Linked DNA regions of Homo sapiens: regions 1 and 2 are each reported to be linked to region 3. The links are microRNA targets in miRTarBase. Many come from high-throughput screens and were not tested one by one. Region 3 holds a microRNA gene; each other region holds the end of a gene's coding sequence. Distances are from middle to middle.

Region 1 (5,057 bases), not on the chromosome of region 3:
CGTGGTGCAGACCAAGGAGGATCTGAATGCCTCAGGACTCACAGGTTCTGCCCACCCTGCTGCTGGGGAGAGGTGGGGAGGTGTCAGGGCTGATCAGAGCCTGGGGCAGCAGGAGGCAAGAGGAGGACTGGGCTGGAGAATAGTTCTGTCCTCTGGGCCCCCAGGAAGCATTGTCGGGCATGTGGGTGACGGCAACTTCCACTGCATCCTGCTGGTCAACCCTGATGACGCCGAGGAACTGGGCAGGGTCAAGGCTTTTGCAGAACAGCTGGGCAGGTAGGAGCAAAGCCAGGGAGGGGAAGAGCTGAGGGCAGAGGAAAGGGAGCCCCCTGAGGATGTCTCCTTCCTGCCCCCAGGCGGGCACTGGCTCTCCACGGAACGTGCACGGGGGAGCATGGCATCGGAATGGGCAAGCGGCAGCTGCTGCAGGAGGAGGTGGGCGCCGTGGGCGTGGAGACCATGCGGCAGCTCAAGGCCGTGCTAGACCCCCAAGGCCTCATGAATCCAGGCAAAGTGCTGTGAAGGGGGTCTGAGCACTTAGCCCACAAGTTCCCTGACTACGGAGCCGGTTCTGGAACTTTTCTTCATGCCACGGCCCCTGCAAGGAAATAGATGCTGAGGCAGTCTTCCTGCCAGCGAGCCCACTGTATCTGGGCCCAAGGCCAGAGGGCCCAGAGAGAAGCCTGAGCACCGTGTTACCTCCCTGGCCCTCTGGCTGGCCCCAGGAGCCTTTGGTTCAGTAAACGACCCAGGGTGGTTCCCAGCAAAGCTGCTTCCTCTCTGCTCCTACGCATCCTGTCCTGGCGGGAAGAGAGCGTCTGGGTCCATTCAAGACTCTGATGACACCCCTCCCCGAGGCCTCCCACTGCCGGGGTCCCAGGACCCTTCCCCCTTCACCTGGTGACAGGAACACTCCTTTCCTGGTATGGAACGTGAGCTCCCGTGACATGATGATAGGTCTTCTCCTTGGGGCCTCCCCCAATAAATCTGTAATAAACCTGAAACCCACCTACAGCTACCTGGAAGTCAGCAGGCAGCACTTCCTCCCCTCCCCCTCCAGGGTCTCTGTCCTTTGGTCAGTGACCCCTTTGTTTTGGGGCTGTCCTCTGACTTCTTATAGCCTGGGGAGGAGGTTGGTGCTCAGGGTTCGGAAAGGAACCCAGGTCCCTGTCCCAGCTACTCCGCCTCAGAGCTGAGGACCTGCCCACGGCACATGTCACTCAGGATGGGCTCCCCAACTGGGCCTGAACCGGGCCTCTGAACACACTGAATGTGTTCCTCAGCAGCTGCCACGTCTCTAGAAACAGAGATGAGACTATTTTTGCACCCACCTCTTCATGGGGTGATGTATCGTACCACCAGCTGTTTTGCCCTCAAGGTCTGTCCACCCGAGGGCCTGCCCCTGTCTTGGGCCGGAGCCCGTCTTGAGACCTTGGCAGTTGTTCCCCCCTAAGCCCACAGGAGGGCGCCCGAAATCATGAAGCTCAGATACCACGCGGCATCTGCAGCTCACGACTCCTCTGCCCAGGGCCTGCGGCACTCAGCCCTGGGCAAACCTCCTCCTAGGGTCAGGTAAGTCCTGGCAGCCTGGAAGCCAAGCTAGTCCTCCATCCCCTGCAGGTCCCAGGAACCTGCAGTGCTGTCTCATCTTCCTTGCCCCTCTAGCCTTCGGTCCCTTTTGGAAAGAGGCATGTCACACCCCACGCCCTCCCTGGCCTCCGCCCCTCTCCTCCTCCCATCAGCTGTCAGTGCTCAGGCAGGCTGCTAGGCCTTAGGCAGAGGCAGCTGCGCTGAGACGCCCCAGTCCAACTTCAGTTCTTGGAACCCCTCCTCCGTGCTAATACTGGGCTCCAGCCGACAGCAGTTACACCAACCTGAGCCTGGAGGCTACTCCTCCGTGACGTTTCTGTCCCGTGCTGCCCTGGTGGGGAGCAGAGACCGTGCCAAGGGCTCACTGGTGACAAATCTCAGCCCTCTCCCCAAACCACCCCAGCACGCGTGTGCTCATCACCGAGACAGCCCTCTCGCCCCTCCCCTTCCAGCCAGCCAGCCAGCCACCCACTCTTCCAGGCGAGAATCCTGCAGCAGCTGCGCTCTCCCTCCTGGGTAGGACTCTTCTTTGATGCGCCCTCCAGTGCCTGGCAACTAGGAGGCGCTCAGCAAATGACCATTTCCCACAATCTTTTATTAAGAAAAATTCCAAACATACAGAAAAGTTGAAAGAACAAGTACACTGTTCACTGAAATACCAGCCACTGCAGATTCAACAATGAACATTTTGGCCTTATTTGCTTTGTGTATTTTGGGGGGAACTATTTGGAATTAAATTACACATTTCTTGAAGGCATTCACCTATATAATCCAGCATCTATCTCCTAAGAATGAGGACATTTTCCCATGAACTGCAGTACCGTTAAATGGCTATTAGAGGAATGGTTGGTCTTTGTGAGGGTCTCACGTCCAGGAACCTCATCAAAGTGTGCTAGGCCCTTAGCAGAGAGGGTAGAACCTGCTCGCCGGCTCCCTCACCTTCTCTCCCATCCCAGAAAGGCAGAACAGGGGCAACACAGGATTCTGGAGAGCTGTCCAGATAGAGGATCACAAACATGAGCTCCACCTGGGAAACACAGACAGCCCCAATCCCACCCCCACAACAAGAGCAGGCAACCTGGGTCCAAATTCAGAGGACACCACAGCCGGCAGAGGGCTGCAGCATGCCAGGTAGGACGGAAGTCGCTGGGGGTGGGGATGAGCACCAGCCCCTAGAGCCTGGAATAGCACCCGGCGTGGGCTACAGCCCTGCCCCACCCACCTCACAGCTGCTCGGCTCACCCATGGCACTGCCAAAGCAGCAGGCTTAAGCCGCCAAGGCGGGCACATGAAGCCTCCATTTCCAGGTCCAGGGGTCAGGCAAGGAGATCTCCTTCAGGGCTGGGCCCTGCCTCGCCAGCTTTGCTGGTGGAATTAAATATAGCACAGGGAGACACAGTTGCCAGGCAGAAGCAGGAGGTGCTGTGAATAGAACAGTGCCCTTTGTGGTGACAAAGCTATGGGGAGCCTGCTGTGCATGTGCCAAGACCTGCAGGGCAGCTCCCCCAGCCCCCACAGGGACCTCTGAGCTGCATGGTTTTGTCCCCGCTTCACATGTGAAATATCTGAAGTTCAGATGAAGTCGTTTCCCCAAGATCATTCTGCCAAGTAGGAGAGCCTGAATGCACAGTCTAGAGCCCACGTTCCTGCCACCGACTCACAACAGCCCCAAGGTCTTCACCCCAGACGGGTCCCGCGCTGAGACCCAGGCTCTGAACCACCGAGTCTTCTTTAGTGTTTCTCCGCTGGCCCTGGCTCACGTTTGCCCACTGGCCTGTTGTGAATGCCCTTGCACAGAGTAGGTGCTTCTGGAAGCATCTGATGGAGGGTGACTGCGGAGCCAGGGGCCGTGGCAGCAGGGGGATGGTCCAGCACATCAGGCGGGCCTGAGAAGGGTCAGAGCAGAGAGGCGGTGGAGTCGTCTCCCTCTAGAGCTTTCCTTCGCTGGCTCTGCAGGAGGCTCTGGAATGCTGCTCCGGGAGCCCGCTGGGCACGGGGACACAGGCCAGGCCTGCACTGCTGCTCCCTGCCCCGAGCTGCCTGCCCAGCCCGCATTTTGCCAACTTTTGTGAGCCTGAGCAGTTGGTTCTGGTTCAAGGGCTCTGAGCTGGCACAGCCCCAAACCAGGGCCTCTTCCTGGGCCTCAATGAAGCATGCCCGTGAGTCAGCACTGAGACGCAAACTGAACAACAGGCAGGGCGAGTGGAACGTGGGATGGGGAGCAAAGGCTGGAAGGAGGGGGGCTGGGCCCACACCTGGAAGAACCCACATCCTTGCAGCCTCCGGTGGCTGCAACATCTTGGCCCCTGCAGATCTTTTCAGAGGTCCAGCACAATGACTCCACAGAGGGCTGACTGGTTCCATGATGCTTAAGAGGTTAGGAAGCTTGTAGGAGGCACGCCTGACTTGCCACTCCCTCCACCCAGGCCTGACTATCTGAGGACCAATTCACACACCTGGAGCCCCGAGTAGCAGCCTGAAGGAATGCTAAGGAGGTAGGTGAGGGAGTGGGGGGCAGGCCCTTGCCCCCATTTCTTGATTGTATAACACTTCATTAAAATAAAATCACGCAGTGCCATCTTTTATTAGACATTTTAATACCATATCAAAACACCTTGACTAATGAAGAAAGCTTTTCTCCCAAGCTTTGAACATTTTTTTAAACATTTTATAAGTTTTTTTTTGTATTTTAATATATAAATACAGAAACCTATCTTGCATGGGCTGATGCCACGTGTGAACATCAATGGCTAAAATGTTCTCAAACATAGTGCCTGAAAACAGGGGTAGCTGTACATATTTCTTAGTAAGTCTTTTTTTGTTTAAGTTTTCTGAAAAAAAAAATCCACGAGGGCCTAAGAATAATGTTCAGGCATTTTTGCAGGACACTTGTGATTGTTAAATCCTCTGAACTGACCGGAACCAGGAGGAAAGAAGGGAAAAGAGATGGGATCAGTAGGAAGAAAGTTCTCAATGGGTTGTTTTTTGGCAATGAAGTCAAGATATTAGGGTCTCAAGGGGAGAAAAGAGCAAAAAACCAGCCAGAAAAATAGAGGGAAAAAACCAAACAAACCCAAAGTAGAGAAGTTGGTGGTGGAGAGGGCCAGTTGGGGCAGGGGAAGAGACCGTGTGCTCGCCCGCCGTCAGAAGGCTGGCAGCGAGGCCTTAGCTGTGTTCGTCTGTCACTGAGTGGGTTATGGCTGGGCAGCAAACAGCAAGCTGTAAACATCACGAGGGAAAACACCAGTCGACACTAGACTTTTTTTTTATATAATTTTTTTTTGTAAACACTTTAAAGACAGACCCACAATGCCTTTCAAAGATGAAAAAGAAAATGCCCTTTCCCTCCTGGGCTGAGGGGTGAGGGGAAGGATAGCAGTTGATTCATTCTTCTCTCAAACTTGCTCTCATCCAATTTGGTGTCCTCAGGGAGGAAGGGAGAACCATGATCTGGAAGTCAGTGCAGA
Region 2 (5,057 bases), 20 Mb from region 3:
ACAGGCGCCTGCAACCATGCCCGCTAATTTATTTTATTTTTTTAGTAGAGACGGGGTTTCACTGTGTTAGCCAGGATGATCTCAATCTCCTGACCTTGCGATCCGCCCGCCTTGGACTCTCGAAGTGTTGGGATTACAGGCGTGAGCCACTGCACCTGGCCTTTTTTTTTGCAGAGTCTCACTATGTAGCCCAGGCTGGAGTGCAGTGGTGTGATCTCACTGCATCCTCTGCCTCCTGGGTTCAAGCGATTCTCCTGCCTCAGCCTCTTCAGTAGCTTGGATTACAGGCACCCGCCACCAAGCCCGGCTAATTTTTTTATATTTTTAGCAGAGATGGGGTTTCACCATGCTGGCCAGACTGGTCTTGAACTCCTAACTTCAAGTGATCCACCGCACCCAGCGTGAGGCATGGTCTTGAATATGCATGTCTCACATTTCCAGGTGATACTGCTGCTGCTGGTCTGAGGACTACAGTTGGACCCACTGATGTAGAGGGTGGGAGGGAGAGTGTGGGCAGCAAGACCTTTCAGGAAGCTGTGGAAATAGATGGGGGAGACAGAGTCAGGGCTGATCACATTTTAGATCTGGGTGCTGCGAACTTTTCAGTGCCTTAATGGTGAGATTGCAGGCATGGTGATAAGAGACTGTATCTTGGAGGGAAATCCACTGGGCAATCATGTGCCCCCAGCATTGGCCAGGACAGCCCCCAACACCCAGCCTGCGGGGACCAGATCCACAGTTGGTAATGAGCTTCAGAAAGCACGACAAAGACAAGATGCCCAGAGCTGCAGTTTAATGTTTAATGCCCAATTATCTCAATACAAGGAGGCTTACATGGTGCTCATAAAGACACGACCAGGCGAAACCAGGCCGGCAGGAAATGACCCGCATGAGTCCCAGCACGGGGACCATGTTCTCTCGGTTCCAGCTCACCCTCGAAAAGTGCCACAGGCAAGGTTCTTCAGCTCACCCAGGAGCCAGCAGGCTGGCCAGGCGTGTGGCCACCATGGTCACTGAGGATCCTCGTGGGAGAATAGGGTTCTGGGACCTCAGGATACAATCACAAGAACCAGAAAGCTGCTTCCAAACAACCCCAGAAGGTTTTCACTTCACATGCGCTAAGCCACACAACACCTGGATGCTGGGGCACCCAAACCCTTTCCCTAAAACTCTGAACACTGCAGAATGGAGGTTGAGAACACTTGGGGAGGGAGAACAAAGTCAGAACCATCCTAAAGCCAGTTTTTCAAGCTTGACCACCTCCCTCTTCCTCCCTGAAGGCACACCAGCCGATCCCATTACTGTGGAAAAGGGACACCCTCTGGTCTATTCTAACACCTTTAATGGGAAAGGAGTTAGGAGCATGTCCCTGGCTTCAAGAAATCTCTGAATCTCCAACTCTACTGGATGATTTCCTGGAGCCCCAAGCTTTAGAAGTCCCTGGGGACACGAGTGATTTTTTTAGGGGGGCTGCTGGTGGGGCTGGGAAGTTTCCTGGCAGAAATTATTTACCTCAGAAAGACACTGGCTTTTCTCTTACCCTCGTTTTAAAGTCTACCTGGTCCCTAAAGAAAATACCACTCAGGCTGGGCCTGGTGGCTCGTGCCTGTCATCTCAACACTTTGGGAGGCCGAGGTGGTGGATCACTTGAGGTCAGGAGTTCAAGACCAGCCTGACTAACATGGCAAAACCCCGTCTCGACCAAAAATACAAAATTAGCCGGGCGTGGTGGTGCATGTCTATAGTCCCAGCTACTCTGGAGGCTGAGGCAGAAGAATCGCTTGAACCTGGGAGGCAGAGGTTGCAGTGAGCCGAGATCAGGCCACTGCACTCCAGCCTGGGCAACAGAGCGAGACTCCATCTCAAAAAAAAAAAAAAAGAAGAAAAAAAGAAAAGAAAATACCACTCAAAATGTGTCCTGAAGCACTCTGTGGAAGTCGGGAGGCTTCAAGTGTCACTGGCAAGACGGGGGCATGAGCTTGTGTCCTGCACTGAATCTGAGGCTTAGCCTGGGAGGTCTAGCCCCTTGGCCAGGCAAGGTGTGAAAGGGACAGTAGAGGGGGACAGAGGCAGCTGCTGAGCACACGGGGCACAAGCCTGAAGGCAGCTCCCCTGACCAGCCATATGGAGAGGCCTCTAGGGCATGAGCTTACATTCCAGACTTCAGTATTAAACTCATTCCCAATGGGTCCTGCAGGCCCCTTCTTCCTTTTCTCTGATGTAATTCTTGGGGAAAGCTCCAGAGCCCAAGGAATGGGAGTCAAACACCTCTGACTTCAGAGATGGCACATGGCTAAATGGCAGCCCAGTGGAGACCTCAGAGCAGCCCACTCACCACAAACGAGATCCTACACAGGGTCCCTGAGCATGCTGGACTTTAAGACGGGCGTCTGATAAGACCCTTGTGAGTATTTGGGTAGGAGACCAAAAGCATTTCTGCAAAGGGTACACAATTAGCCCTGCTTATAGAGTGGGGGCAGCTGTGACCCGCTGACCACTCCTGGGAGGGGGCTAACTTGGGGGCCCAGGAATTTGAGCAAATGATGAGGCACAATTGTCCCCAGCTGGGCATTAGATCACATTGGGCCCCACCCTGAAATAATCCCTCGTCTCAAACTTCAGACATCAGTCAGTCAGCTCAGGAGCCATCCAACAAAACCAACTTCATATTTTAAACCAGCTTAATGCTACAAACTTTTCTAAAAAGTGCTGTCCAGCTGAGCCTCTGAGAAAACCTAGCTCCCTGAGGGGTGGATGGCAGGCCTCTCAGACCAACCCCTGAGCCTCTCTCCAGAAGTCATAGCCTTGGTTCAGCCCAGAGCACCCACATCCCAGGGTGGGTGGGGGAGAAGAGCAGCTGAGCTGAAGGGACAATGTGGGATGATCAAGCCTCTGGGGGAACAGGCTGAAGCCAAAAGACCCCCTCAGGACCCCAGGCCTGCAGAGGTAACATGAGTTCCTCTCCCCATTAGCTGTGAAGGCCTGGTCTGCCATGAAGACCTCTCTCTGTCACCCCTTCAGTATACCTGGGAAAAAAGGAGTGAACAAGTCACCAAGCCCCAGTCACCTCTGTCCTTGGGGTCTGAGTGAGCTCTGAGGGGTGGAGTCCTTAATGAACCATCCCCTTCAATAACATGGTGAAAAAATTCCTCCCAGGGAAGCAGAGAATGATGCCAGTGCCACATGGGGGGCAGAGGGGATGCTTTTGGCAGTTTTTTGTTTTAATCTGACCCTTCTTTACAGTGGGGCTGCCTCTGCCTACCAAGTCCTTGGTGCAAAATGGCTCCTGGACCAGCGCAAGGCAGAAACTCTGAGGAAAAGTGCCCGCCACAGCCATGACAGCTGCCCCCATGCTCCTGTCTGTTTTCCACGGGAGCTTGTCTCTGCTGGACCATTTTTACATCTCAAGGGGAGAGGTAAGGACTTCCTCAGGAAAGGGGTCTCCTGAGCAGGTGGCTCCTGTTTCCACAGGAGCCTCAGTGCTACCTGCCCTAGGATGGCTCCCTGGGACCATCTCTGGGACAGAGGCGACCAGGAAGCCAAGACCGGCAGCTCAGCTGGAGATGTGAGGCCAAGAACAGGGGAAGAGGCAAAAGGGCCCACAGCTGCCGTTTACTAGAACCATGAGGCCTAAGTGCAATTAGCATTCTAGCAGACTGGACAGCCCCTCAGAGTCCCAGCCCCCACCACAGTGGGGAAACCAAGGATGTAGCCTGGGCCCCTCCCTTGGAAACCCAGACCTGCCCTGGAACATGGACAGTGATGGGCCTGTCTGCAGAGGTCTCACTAAAAACTAGAACAACCTCCCTGCTAAAACTCAGGGAGGACAAACAAACAACTCAACCTGAAATAAATACAAAGGCATTATGTGCTTCTTGGTACGTCGAGGGTCCTAATTACCCCTCAAAAGGAGGTAGCAGGGCCTTTCCCTGGACTTGGCCACCTCACCTGCAGCCTTCTTGTGAGAGGTCAGAAGTCAGAAGACTGGATGGGCCTCCCTAGGCCCAGCTTCCATTAGGAAGGTGAGGACCACCCCTTATCCACTCCTCACCCGTACCATTCATATCTCCCCACACAGCTTCTGCCGGCTGGGGCAGGAAAGGCGAGGAGACCCCATGCCCTGAGGGCAGCACCTAGTGTCCAATGTCCCTGTGCAGGCAGAGGGGCTGTCAGCCTGTCTGTGAGGAGGTAGAGTCGGGGGCAGGCTGCTGGGGGCAGGCAGGGCCACTCAATTAATCAACAGGTCCCCAAGGTCGTAGGAGTCGAAGAGATCGCTGATGCCCTCACCCGCCTCCAAGCCCCACAGGTAGTCGTCCTGGTCCAAGGATGGGGAGAAGCTGATCAGAGGGGAGCTGCACGCCAGGGTCGGGGACAGGAACTGGTCCTCAGTCTGCTGCAGGAGTGGGTGCGGCAGCTCCAGCAGGCTGTCAGTAGCCTCCAAGGGGACCAGGGATGGAGGCGGTGGGGCCTGCTGGGGGGTTGGCGCTGGTGCTGGCACTGGAGACAAACAGACAAAGGTTACGCCTGGCCCTAGCATCCAACTCCTCAGCACGCGAGGACAGACTTCCGGTTCTCTGGATGACTGCACCCTTCTTCTCTCTCCTTAGCCTGGGTGGACTGTCGTGCTCTCAAAATCCACCTTCCAGAGTCTACACCCAACCCTACAACTTTTCATGTATTTTTTATTTTTTTGAGACCGGGTCTCACTCTATCACCCAGGCTAGAGTGCAGTGTTGTGATCTTGGTTCACTGCAACCTCTGCCTCCCAGGTTCAAGCGATTCTCCCACCTGAGCCTCCCGAGTAGCTGGACTACAGGCATGCACCACCACACCCAGCTAATTTGTGTATTTTTAGTAGAGATGGGGTTTCACCATGTTGGCCAGGCTGGTCTCGAACTCCTGACCTCAAGTGATCGGCCTTCCAAAGTGTTGGGATTACAGGCCTGAGCCACTGTGCCCGGCCAAAAAGGAAAGAAATTCTGACACATGCTACAACATAGATGAACCCTGAGGACATTAAACTATGTGAAATAAGCCAATCACAAAAAAACAAATAC
Region 3 (5,070 bases):
GTGTCTTCATCATACTTGGATTCAAACGGTGATATAATGAAGGTGGTGTGCTCAGGAAAACTGTTAGACAACTCAAAAAGTGGCTCTGGTGATGACAAAGGCAGTGATATTGAAGACACCAAAAGAGGGGTTCTTAACATATTTTCATGAAATTACAGTGAAAAAAGTACTTTTAAATTAACATTTTATATGTGATTTTAACTACATATGCGTGACTGATTAATCTAGTTTCATAATACAAGTCGCCATTTATTTCCTCTACATTTATAATACTGCATATATATTCAAATTGGCCAAAATCTTTCTTTCCAATCATCATGCTGGGATTATGGGGTTATATGTGGCACATACCATTCCTGTATATGTCAGGATGGAAAAAGTTTTACCTGGAATGAATTTTTGCCATTTCTGATCCACATTGTACTTCACACAGTGATTTCCTGAAGGAAATATAATGATCTGTTCATCGAAGTAGAAGATATTGTTGGCCACGTGGGATCGAAGACCAAAAACATGCAGCGTCTGAGCTACCACGGCTGACATGATCTCCCGCCAAACAGTTCTGCTGAAGACCAAGGCAGCGCTTCAGAGTGGAGAGCACCGCCCCGCTCCGACCCCGCCCCCGGCCCGGACTCGCCCTCCCCGCCCTTTGCTCCTCCCCTTGTCTCTCCCCTTTCTCCTCCCCTTGTCCCTCCCCTTTCCCCTCCCCTTGTCCCTCCCCTTTCCCCTCCCCCGGGGTCCTCCTCCGCGCCACCCCACCCCCGCGGCTCCTTTTTCTGCCTTTTCCTTTGTACCCTCACTGCTACCAGCTCCTTCTGGCGACCCCCAGGTACCCCCTCCCACCTTTCGTTTCTCTCTGGGTCAGCAGACCACGCATGTATCCAGAGGCGCTACCTGTAGGGATCCTAAGCAACCCGGACACTTTCAAACGCCGTAGCGGTTCCTATAGCAACGACAAACCGGAAGTATGGTTTGCCGCCGGAAGCGGAAGTCCCAATCAAAAGTTGAGCAGTAGCTGTGAGTTGCTGGCGCTGGAGCGATTCGGTGGCACGTGGAGCCACGGCGTGGGAGTAGGGGGCTGAAGGCAGGCAGCAGCGGCCAGGGCCGCCCTCTGCTAGCCGCTTGGGTCTCGGGATACCCCGTTTCTTCCTGTAGGTGTGGGACGTGCGTGCGGCGAGATGGACACTCCCCCGCTCTCGGATTCGGAGTCGGAATCCGATGAATCCCTTGTCACAGACAGAGAGGTAGGTGTCAGCCGAGCTCGTGGGGCTGGGCGTGGGAGAGGGGGCCTTACACCCCTGGGAGTGACCGTGATTGTGTCCTGCAGTTGCAGGATGCGTTTTCCCGAGGGCTTCTGAAGCCAGGCCTCAATGTCGTGCTAGAGGGGCCGAAGAAGGCCGTGAACGACGTGGTGAGCGTGGGCACAGGGTCGGGGGTACTCGGACATGGGATGCGCTTCAGGCGCTGTTGGGCTTGGGAGACCGATTCTTGTCCCAGGAAAGATGCACCCTGCGCCTCGCCAAGAGGGTCAATTACCTGTCTGGGTATTGGGGATTAGCACTTTGTCCCTTCGCCTAACAGCCTGTGCTTGGGAAAGACAAACTCAGAGTTCCCTTCTTGTGAGCTCAGTGTCTGGATTTCCTAGAATGGCCTGAAGCAATGTTTGGCAGAATTCAAGCGGGATCTGGAATGGGTTGAAAGGCTCGATGTGACACTGGGTCCGGTACCGGAGATCGGTGGATCTGAGGCGCCAGCACCTCAGAACAAGGACCAGAAAGCTGTTGATCCAGAAGACGACTTCCAGCGAGAGATGAGTTTGTATGTTTGTTTTCAAATGTTGGAGAAGTTGAGGATCCTTGTGCAGGAGAGTGGGAAAGAGGGGAAATTAGTAAGTCTGCACTCAGAATAAGCCTAGGAGTAGAGAGAGCGGCTTCTTTTGACTAAGAATAGCTAGGAGATTCTTCCTGTTTGAGAGAAGAGCTCTTTGGTCCACGGTCACGATCCAAAATCCACTTTATGGGCTAATTTGAAATATTCATGTTAAAACTTTTTGTGCATGCTTCAGTTATTAGGAAAACAAACAAACAAACATTGCTTATGGGATGTTCTTGTGTGGAATTGCTTTAGTAATTACATAAGAATCCATAATCGACATTCGTTTGTGTTAATGGGTACCTTTAGAGTAGTCATTCTCTTAAACTATTTTTAGCAACACCCCTCCCCTTTTTAAAAACTAGTATACGGCTACATTTCTTTTAGATACTAAATCAGTGAGACAGTTTTTGTTTGTTTGTTCTTGCTAATGGAGGTCAGATTTTGAGAGTCCTTCTGAGCTTGGATAACTCATGATTGGCGGTGAAAAGGAACGTAAGGCCTCCTCCTTCACCTCATTACACATTTTGTCCTACGATTCTCAGCTATCGCCAAGCCCAGGCCGCAGTGCTTGCAGTCTTACCCCGCCTCCATCAGCTCAAAGTCCCTACGAAGCGACCCACTGATTATTTTGCGGAAATGGCCAAATCTGATCTGCAGATGCAGAAGGTAAGAAATAGAAGTTTTCCTCTGGAAAGTCAAAACTTTGTACTTAAGCATATTCAGCTGGCTTAGAAAGATAGCTATGAGCCCAATAACGGGGAGCCAGTTGTCAGAGGACAATTATTACCTCTTCCATAGATTGGCTACTTCAGAGTCATGCCAGTTACCACCAATTAGATGCATATAAAAATGACATTTTTTCTAAAATCAGCAATTAAGGAGAGGAACAGTGCTGTGTGAAGTGTGGTCCCCGAGGTGAAGATGGCCCAGTGCATTTCCTAGCTGGCATGGTCATGACATGGTGTGCAGAGAGGACAGCATTCTTGTGCCCTTGCCACTGTCAGTGCTAGAACTTGTAGACAATTACTTTTCTCTGGGCCTCAGTTTTCTCCTCTGTAAAATGAGGGATTCTTAGATGGTTCAGATATAGTACAATTTAGAGTTGGGTAGAACTTGGACCTCATTTAACTTTGGAAGAAGGGATTGCCAGCATGTAATCCAACATACATTCAGCCCTCCATAGCCATGGGTTCAGCATCTGTGGATTCAACCAACCTTGGATCAAAAATATTGGGGAAAAAAATTTGAAAATATTGCAAAAGGAAAACTGAATTTTCCGTGTGCCGAGAACTACATTGAATCCATGAGAATGAGGTGATGCATAGCATTGTATTCGGTATTATAAGTAATCTAGAGACTATTTAAAGAAGCGGTCTGGCACTAGAGACTAGTTTCGTGGATGACAATTTTTTCATGAACTTGGGGAGGGGATAGTTTTGGGATGAAACCGTTCCATCTCAGATCATCAGGCATTAGATTCTCATAAGGAGCAGGCAACCTAGATCCTTTGCATGCATAGTTCCATGCATAGTTCACAGTAGAGTTCGCACTCCTATGAGAATTTAACGCCACCACCAATCTGACAGGAGGTGGAGCTCAGGTGGTAATGCTTGCTTGCCTGTCACTCACTTTCTGCTGTGCGGCCTGGTTCCTAACAGGCCACAGATTCATAGTGGGTTCGTAGCGGTCTGTGGCCTGGGAGTTGAGGTCCTCTGACTTTAAAGGATACTGGAGGCGAGTGTAGGTTATATGCAAATGCTGCACCATTTTTATATAAAGGACTTGAGCATCTGTGGATTTTGATATCTGTAGTGGGTCCTAGAACTAATCCTCTATGGATACTGAGGGATAAGTATATTTAAATAGTACCCTGGGGTCTCAAGCTGGATTTTAGGGAGCTTTTGTCGTGGTAGTAGTTCACCTTCTTACTGTGAACTCTGTACAAATTCTCACTGACAACTTCTCATCCTTTAACTAAAATGTGTATGTTTGACTGAAAAGGCTAGGCACCTGGTATCTGCCTGGGTTTTTATTGTGTATGTGGTATACTAGAAAAGGACACTGAGGCCGCATACTGGTTTCCAGCCTCAGTCTACTGACAGTAGAAATGGGGAGAAGTTTGTCTTCTTTCCTGGGCTACAAATAGGCAGTTTGTATAATGAAACAGACAGCACACTGGGAGCGGGAAGGTGACTTTCAATCTCTGGCTTCACTCTGGCACTTTTGGTAAAGTGCTCAGCCTGTGGGCCCCATTGTCCTCAGGGGTTGGAACTGATGATTTATAAGTTCCGCAGTTTAAAGAACAGGGAATATCTGTTCCCTGCTCTAGCGAATCCTAAGTAGTGGTCATTCCAGATTCAAATGACATGAACTGACAGCATTTTGTGTTGTAGATTCGACAGAAGCTGCAGACTAAACAGGCTGCCATGGAGAGGTCTGAAAAAGCTAAGCAACTGCGAGCACTTAGGAAATACGGGAAGAAGGTGAGAAGAAAAGTGTGCAGGGAACAGGAAGAGGCGGAGTGTGTGTTAGATGAGATTGCCGTGGTCTGACTTGGTCCCCTGAACTGAACGGAACTGTGTGTTGATCATGTATTTACCGTCTCTCAGTGTATGTGCTGGTATTCATGAGCACAATCTTGCCTGGACATGAGTGGTTCCCCAGGAGTAGTATGGTGACTGCAGGTGAGCCAATCACCTCTCTGGGCGTTAGTTTTCACATCTGTACACTGGGTCCAGATGAGTGGTTTCCAAACCTGACCTTATAGCAAAATCACCAGGGGAAATTTTTCAAAACAGAATTCTAGACTTCAGAATCCCCAGGAATCTGTGCCTGTTTTCCCCTCTTCCCCAAAAGCTTTCCAGGTGATTCTGAAATGCATCCTGGTTTGGGATTCACTGATCTATGTGATAATCACGTACCTGAAGAAATTATCATAATGATTGTCATCCAATCTGAAAGATTGCCTGCGTGTTTGAACTATGAATGTCTGAGTTCTAATGTAACACCAGATCAGGCATACCCTAAAACTTTTCTTGGTTTTCCTTTTTTATTTCATGGTCATCTAAGAAAGAAGATGACAGATTTTAAAGTTAGGATTGTGGGAAGAAATGAATGTGAGGAAGATTGGTGTGGGTGTTAAGACTTCGTCAACATTTGGACATAAGCACTTGTGATCTGGGCTGCAGAACTCTT

The links. Region 3 holds the annotated microRNA hsa-miR-6733-5p (UGGGAAAGACAAACUCAGAGUU, at 1,590-1,611, shown strand). A microRNA usually pairs through its seed, bases 2 to 8, with sites in the 3' UTR of a target mRNA and lowers its output. Matches are read on the target gene's strand: a 7mer-m8 pairs with bases 2 to 8, a 7mer-A1 pairs with bases 2 to 7 and ends in A, and an 8mer does both.
Region 1: miRTarBase lists LDHD as a target of hsa-miR-6733-5p. The part of its 3' UTR that is shown has no 7-base or 8-base seed match.
Region 2: miRTarBase lists E2F2 as a target of hsa-miR-6733-5p. Seed matches in the 3' UTR shown: 7mer-A1 at 3,028-3,034, 7mer-m8 at 2,231-2,237 and 8mer at 1,345-1,352.

What each region holds. Positions count from the first base shown.
Region 1 is chr16:75,107,821-75,112,877 of GRCh38, reverse strand. It overlaps LDHD (lactate dehydrogenase D), which reads left to right. Exons shown (of 11, transcript NM_194436.3): 9 at 1-44; 10 at 165-276; 11 at 357-1,014. The coding sequence ends at 522. ZNRF1 (zinc and ring finger 1) reads right to left here. Exons shown (of 5, transcript NM_032268.5): 5 at 1,884-5,057. Among named protein-coding and RNA genes, the nearest start is that of LDHD, 6.4 kb to the left of the region's middle. RefSeq lists enhancers at 1,542-1,591, 3,589-3,668, 3,699-3,848, 5,043-5,057.
Region 2 is chr1:23,505,652-23,510,708 of GRCh38, forward strand. It overlaps E2F2 (E2F transcription factor 2), which reads right to left. Exons shown (of 7, transcript NM_004091.4): 7 at 787-4,497. The coding sequence ends at 4,229. Among named protein-coding and RNA genes, the nearest start is that of E2F2, 23 kb to the right of the region's middle.
Region 3 is chr1:43,168,227-43,173,296 of GRCh38, reverse strand. It overlaps MIR6733 (microRNA 6733), which reads left to right and starts at 1,585; the gene lies at 1,585-1,645. It overlaps EBNA1BP2 (EBNA1 binding protein 2), which reads left to right and starts at 1,007. Exons shown (of 9, transcript NM_006824.3): 1 at 1,007-1,244; 2 at 1,328-1,411; 3 at 1,646-1,818; 4 at 2,418-2,541; 5 at 4,269-4,358. The coding sequence starts at 1,179. CFAP57 (cilia and flagella associated protein 57) reads right to left here and starts at 967. Exons shown (of 23, transcript NM_001378189.1): 1 at 844-967; 2 at 387-562. The coding sequence starts at 543. RefSeq lists a silencer at 541-740 and enhancers at 851-900, 981-1,110, 660-1,295, 1,241-1,470, 1,296-1,932.